2 linked regions of the Homo sapiens genome follow. The protein of the gene in region 2 interacts with the protein of the main gene of each other region in a pairwise test. Each region holds a gene or a part of one and is shown on either strand. Other genes may lie near its edges.

What was found. The genes of interacting proteins can lie anywhere in the genome.
Region 1: the proteins of SLC7A8 (region 2) and YIPF1 interact in binary tests that used the Homo sapiens proteins (3 or more experiments, as listed by UniProt).

The regions. Positions count from the first base shown.
Region 1 is NC_000001.11:53,865,645-53,869,297, forward strand, and holds part of YIPF1 (protein YIPF1), read right to left. Parts: intron 1,281-3,653; coding exon 1,114-1,280; intron 739-1,113; coding exon 556-738; intron 1-555.
Region 2 is NC_000014.9:23,138,632-23,142,284, forward strand, and holds part of SLC7A8 (large neutral amino acids transporter small subunit 2), read right to left. Parts: intron 1,994-3,653; coding exon 1,840-1,993; intron 917-1,839; coding exon 793-916; intron 1-792. UniProt on the Homo sapiens protein: Associates with SLC3A2 to form a functional heterodimeric complex that translocates small and large neutral amino acids with broad specificity and a stoichiometry of 1:1.

The sequences.
Region 1 (3,653 bases), on a different chromosome or scaffold from region 2:
CTATTTCCTCTGGTCAGACCCCAAATTCTCATCAGATTACTGAAATTAGGCAAAACCAAAGACTAAAGCCAAATTCTCATAATTTCACCACTTCCCATGTAGGTGAGTCTACTTAAAATGAAATTTTATTTCATAGAATCAATTTTTTTTTCTTTTGAGACAGGGTCTCCCTCGGTCACCCAGGCCGGAGTACAGTGGTATGATCTCAGCTCATTGCAACCTCCACCTCCTGGGCTCAAGCGATCCTCTCACCTCAGCCTCCCAAGTACCAGCTACTTGCGATGCTGAGGTGGGAGGATCGTTTAAGCCACGATGCCCAGCTAATTTTTGTATTTTTAGTAGAGACAGGGTTTCACCATGTTGCCCAGGCTGGTCTTGAGCTCCCGAGCTCGAGATCCGCCCACTTGGGCCTCCCAAAGTATTGGGATTATGGGTGTGAGCCAACATGCCCAGCCCATGGACTCAATTTTAAAAGAACTGTTGTGTCTAACAGTTTGAGGTCTTTTAGCATTTGGATATAAAACACACCAAAAGAATATACGACTGAACCCATACCAAGCAGCCCACAGAAAGCAGCATATGGAGCAACACAATTGTCACAATTGTGGCCAATGCAACGCGTCGGTTATCCTCACGAACAGCTGGCCAAAATGTCATTGCCAAGAGAGATCCTGAGATGCCCAGGGCAATCATGACTAGAATCCAACGAACAGCTTTCTGGGGGATAATCCACAGTATCTGAAAGAAGAGAAAAGGAGGAGCGGGGAGTTCTTGGGAGGCATTTGTTCATTCCAGGCACATATGTTTACAAAGGCCCCTGAGCCAATCAGCAGCTGGGCCCCCATTGCCACTCTGGTTTTTCAGTACAGGCTGGAGGAACACCACCAGCATGTAGACTGAGGCATATGCTTTTATAACAAAGGGCCCAAGATCCAATGAAGGCACTAGGCTCCCCAGACCCCTTTCATGCTTAACTTCTAACTTCAAAGGAGATTTTTTCAGAAGAACATGAGTATTGCGCTGGAAATAATGATGGTAGGTCAAATTCTTGGTTGAAGTTTCTACCAAGAACAGAGCATCACTCAGAATCTACTCCCTAAGTATGGTACTTACTGCGGTGGGGATATAAATGAAGAGGGAATATCCATAGACACACACAATCTCCAGAAATGAATAGGAGACGATGTTCATAACTTTGCTGTTTCTCCACATGAGGAAACCCCAGAGTGCAAGAGGAACCAGCCAGGCATAGGCATAGATGATGGTAGCTGCTATGGACACTGAGGATGACAGGACACAAGTTTCAATCTCCATCATGCCTTTAGTAGACTATCAGAGCACTTCCAACACCTTATTGTACTTAAATGCTAACATGTCAATTGACTTCAGTGGACCACGGAATCATGTCTTACTGGTCTGTAATCCCTGAGCTTGGTACAGTACCTAACACACAGTAGGCACTTTAGAAATGTTTGTTGAATTAATGAATCTTTACCATTCGTCTTTGTGGTGAGGATCAATAGTCTCTCATATGGTTTTTATAGGTCATTTAATAACTAACAACTAATATTATTAAACAACTGAACTATGCAACTGAAATACTTCAGAGGGCCACACTGCAAATGTTCATATATAGTAGATATTTCAATCAAATAAAAACCAACTATCCCCTTGGAAGAACATGTTCTCTTCCTCGGTATAACAAGAGCTGACACTGACTTCCTTTTTTTTTTTTTTTTTTTTTTTGAGACAGAGTCTTGCTCTGTCGCCCAGGCTGGAGTGCAGTGGCGCGATCTAGGCTCACTGCAAGCTCCGCCTCCCGGGTTCACGCCATTCTCCTGCCTCAGCCTCCCGAGTAGCTGGGACTACAGGCGCCCGCCACCACATCCGGCTAATTTTTTGTATTTTTAGTAGAGACGGGGTTTCACCGTGTTAGCCAGGATGGTCCTGACCTCGTGATCCGCCCGCCTCCGCCTCCCAAAGTGCTGGGATTACAGGCGTGAGCCACCACGCCCGGCTGACACTGACTTCTTTAGCAAATGTATTAAAATGCCTTGGGTAGAGATTAACTTGCTCTGCATGCTCTCTAGAGTTCCTCTGTCTCTGAAATTGGGAGATGCAGCTCACTGATTAACTGCTTGAAATATTCTCCAGTTATACTTTCTTCCTTAAATAAATAATTCCGCCACTGTGGCAAAAATGCTATTGAGTGGCTCCTCAGAACAGCAACGTTCAGCATATTCCTGTACCTCTCTCCTCTTCCTCTAGTAGCAGCACGCCCTGGAGGATTCCCTTTCCCTCTTCTGGAGTGGAGGTCATAAAGTTATAGGTAAGCCATGGCACCAGCCCTTTCTACATGAAAATCAGTAGGTAATTCACTTAATGCATCTTGGCAAGAACAAAGACACCCCTAACAATTATAGTCAGACTCTGGTTAAGACATGAATGTCCAAAACATGTTTTAGCTCCCAGAACAGTTTTTTCACACTGGGAATTGCCTCGTTAGGCCAAATGTAATTCTGCTGATGTACTGCCTTTTTCTTGGATAACTAAGGGAAGAGGAGGAAATTACTCCCATGGCTATAGCTGTCACTTATTGATCAACTACTGGGCATCAGGTATTACACTCGGTGCTTTATTGAGAGGCAATGTGGAATAATGGTCAAGGGCACAGACTCTGTATACAGACTCCATGGGTTCTAGTTCTAGGAAAAGAAACTCTTGGGGGTAAGTTACTTAACCTTCCTGTCTCAGTTTCCTCATCTATAAAATGGGAAGAAAAATAATATACTACCTTCTAAGATTAATAGGAGAATTAAATGAATAAAAGCAGGTAAGAACTGTTCTATGTAGAAGAGCGACTGATCAATAATAAATGCTCAATCAAGAATTAGTTTTTATATTGTTAACTAATATGTAGCTACATTTATTTCATACAATCTATATTGTCATTTTAGAGATGAGGAAAAGGGGTCAGAGAAGCTAAGTTGTTTGGTCAAGGTCACATAATTAACAAGTTAGTAGAAGCAGGATCTCATCTCAGATGTGACTCATACTTTTTACATAAAACGGAAAAATGTTTATTGATAGGGCCAATGACTACTTTACCAGTATATATATCACATCACTTCCTGATACTGGGATGCCCAGCCAAAGAGGATAAGAACAGGTAAAGACTCTCCTGAGTTTCCAGATCCCCAGGCAAAGTGGTTCACTCCTTCTTCTATGTCAATATACCTACACTTATCTCTGATATAGAGGTTAATATGTACTGTTTACAGCAATAGTCATTTACTAGCTTTCTAACCACTGAACTACTTGAAGGCAGGATCTATATCTCATGGTTAATATTTACTGAATTAAACTCAAATCAAGGTTATTTGATAGAGTTGGGATTGAATCCAAGTCTGACTCCATGATGGACAAGAAGGGAAAGTGGGCATGGAAGGTAGAGGGGAAGAAAAGAAGGAAGGATACATGGATACATTCTCTCTCTCTCTCTCTCTCTCTCTCTCTCACACACACACACACACACACACACACACAGGCAAATACATATCTTTCTATGTACACACAGTGAACTAGCTGAAGGCAGGGTTTCTATCTCATGGTTAACATTTATTGCATTAAACTCAAACCAAGGTTACTGGATA
Region 2 (3,653 bases):
CTCCTTAGTCTGAGAAAGAAAAGGCTGTGAAGCTATAGATGAATCTTCATGTATTTAAGGACTATACAATGCAGGAGACCAGCCTTTTCTATATTCCCTGAGCCAGGTTTACAGCACATTACCAAGGAGAGATTGTTCAGAATAGAAGGCTGTTGGTCATAAGAACAGGCTGCCCCAGGAGATGGGAGGACCTCTTTCTTTACAGTCTTTTGAGATAAGGCCAGTGAAGAGACTGGCAGGCTGGGTGGTGGCCCAGCCTGATGCCAGGTGAGGGAGCAAGGTGCCTCCCAGGTCCTTCTTAGATGTGAAGGATCCCAACCCCTTGCACCAGCATGGTCTCTTTCCCCAAAGAGCACACCTGACTTCTGCTTCTGGAGGAGAAGGCAGAGAGAAAAGGCATGTCTTGTGCAAGATTATGTCTTTCTGAGGAGGGGCCTGTCTGCTTCATACCACTCTCACATTTAGAGCTTTAAGTGCCCGAGACTAGGAGTTGGCAAACTTTTTCTGTAAAGGGCCAGATAGTAAATGTCTTATAGCTTCTCAGGCCACGCGGTCTCTGTGGCAATGACTCGGTTCTGCCATTGTAGCTGTTCTAGGTACAACCCAGCCACCTGTTTGCTCCTGGGCACTTAAAGATACCCCAGCCAATGACATATGTGGTTTCTGCCCTGAGAACTTGGGGGTGATTTCCACTTCCACAAGGCCATGGATCAGGGAAAAGTGAGTGGGGCTACAGCAGGCAAGTCTATGTCTGCATTCCTGGTATGAGACTCTGGGACTTTCATTTCTTACCACAGCGACGGCGTTGGATGCCAGCAGCTCCTGGGGGGACATTGCAGTGACATAAGCGACATTGGCAAAGACATACACAAATGTGACCAGTGGGATGGAGATGAAGATGGCTCTGGGAAGGTTCCTGTAGAGGGAGAGGAGGTGAGGGGAAGGGCTGGCACCCGGGACACCCGCCTTGCCATGGAGTCCAGGGGGTGTCTTCTGTCTTTCTGCATGCGTGTAGCCTTACAGCCTTCTGTGAGGCTTCCTTTCCCTGGGAGGTGGGCTTTGTCTCAATATGGGCAGGATAATTTAAAGGAAATGAGGCTGAGCGTGGTGGTTCACACCTATTATCCCAGCCCTTTGTGAGGCCAAGGAGGGAGGATTGTTTGAGCCCAGGAGTTCGAGGCCAGCCCTGGCAACATAGCAAGGCCTCTTCTTTACAAATTAAAAAATTAACTGGGCATGGTGGCATGTGCCTGTAGTCCCAGATACTTAGGAGGCTGAGGTGGGAGGATTGCTTGAGCCCAGAAGACTGAGGCTGCAGTGAGCTATGACTGCACTGCTGGACTCCAGCCTGGGTGACAGGGTGAGACCCTGTCTAAAAACAAAACAAAACAAAAGAAAAAATAAGTTAAAAAAATGAAGGCAATAAAACAACTCAGGTTGGAAATACGCTCCACACCTGTTGATCTTGACCTGAATCTCCACAATGCACCTTTTCCCCCTGCCTCAAGACACCAAGACCGGCCTGTCCTGAAACAAGCAAGATTCCCAGAAGCCTCTCAGGGCACAATTCATTCTCTAAGGCAGTAGTGTTACTGCAGGACAGTTTTCAGCTTCTAATCTGCTCTGGGAAAGTCACTGGATCCTTTCCTCCTCCTGGTGGGGTGAACGGCAAATGGTTTAAGTGCCTGGGAAATGAACTACGACTTCAGGATAGATCAAATCACAGTTAGAATGGGGCTTTGGAAGGCGAGGTGGGCAATGGACACCTGCTCCCTCTTTCCAGCAGCAGGTGCTGTGGCCCTTCAAGGGAGAGGGAATAGCCAGGCTCTTTCAACTCACTTGTAGGGATCAACAAGCTCCTCAGTCACGTAATTCAGAAAGTTCCAGCCTCCATAGGCAAAGGAGCCCTGAAGGAAAGCCAGTGCGACGAGGCCGATGTCAGGTTCCTGGAAATTCTCAAATGCATTCTTTGGCTCCAGCCAGAAGTACTCTCCTGTGGACACAAGCAACAGGAGGCCGCTCAGTGAGACAAGTCAGGGGCCCAGCAGCCCCTGGCCTGCCCTGGCCCACCTCTCACCCCTCCCTGTGGCAATGACACCAACTCTGTCTTGTCTCCAGTGAACCCAACATATTGGATAAATTGGGATAAAGGGAGCAGGGAATTTCAGGTCCAGGGCTTCCGAGACCCCGGAAACTACGAGTCCAAATGAGGGTTTAAGTGCCGTTCTGAATGCTCCTTTTGTAAAAGGCAAAGTTATTTAAAAGGAAAGGACATGGTAAATTGGGCTTTGGAAATACAGGATTGGAGTCATTGGTAATCTCCTGACCACTTTCTCTAAGTTTCTACATTTTCATGAAGAAGCATCCAGGGTTGGGCACAGTGGCTCAGGCCTGTAATCCAAACAATCTGGGAGGTCAAGGCAGAAGGAATGCTTGAGGCCAGAAGTTTGAGACCAGCCTGGGCAACATAGTGAGACTCCCATCTCCACCACTAATTTAAAAAGTTAGCTGGGTGTGGTGGTGCATGCCTATAGGCTCACCTATTTGAGAGGCTAAGGTGGGAGGATCACTTGAGCCCAGGAGTTTGAGGCTGCAGTGAGCTATGATTGTGCCACTGCACTCCAGGGTGGATGACAGAGCAAGACCCTGTCTCCAAAAAAGAAAAAAGAAAAAAACAAACAAACAAAAAAAGCAAGCATCCAGAACAACAAACACTCAAACATAAGTTTCCATAATGCTATATTAGTTCAAGCTTGTTTTGCTGCTTGCTTTGTTGATATCCTCCTATCTCTTTCTGAGGTGTGTGTTTGGTCTCTCTTTTCTTTTTTGTTTTTTTGAGACGGAGTCTCGCTCTGTCGCCCAGGCTGGAGTGCAGTGGCGCGATCTCAGCTCACTGCAACCTCCGCCTCCCAGGTTTAAGTGATTCTCCTGCTTTGGCCTCCTGAGTAGCTGGAGTTACAGGCATATGCCACCATGCCTGGCTAATTTTTTTTTGTATTTTTAGTAGATACAGGGTTTCATCATGTTGGCCAGGTTGGTCTCGAATTCCTGACCTCAAGTGATCTGCCTGCATTGGCCTCCCAAAGTGCTGGGATTACAGGCGTAAGCCACCATGCCTGGCCGTCTCTCTTTTCAAGATTCCCCAAGGACAGGAATTTTTAAGCAAAGAGCTGTTTAAACTGCCTTCCCAGCCCCCCTAGCACAGTGTGCTGCAGACTGTGGGCCCTTGGAATCATCTGCTGACTGGCTAAAATTTCAATGAGATAGAGAGTAACTGATCATATGTTACTTATTCATCTGCAGTTTAGCATTGGGACAGGAAATAAGGAGATTAGTGTGACCAGGAGAAAGAATTGAGGCCAGCTTAGGAGGGACTCACTATTTTTGACAAGATAGCGCAGTGATTTCCTTAAGTCTAAATGCCTGAAAGCAATATATAACCTGTTAAAGAACTTAATCCAACTGTTTAAAATAATCAGGCATATTATATAGCAGAAACTTAATTATGTTTCCTGGAGTAGAAGTCCGGGCTGCCCACACTGCCTTCAGGGCTTGTGGGAAATTTCCCTGTTTGTCACCTGACTTTCTCCGTGAGGCAGTGACGCTGGGCAGAGCCTCATGGTGCCATGGGTCCCATGGAAACCAAATATAGC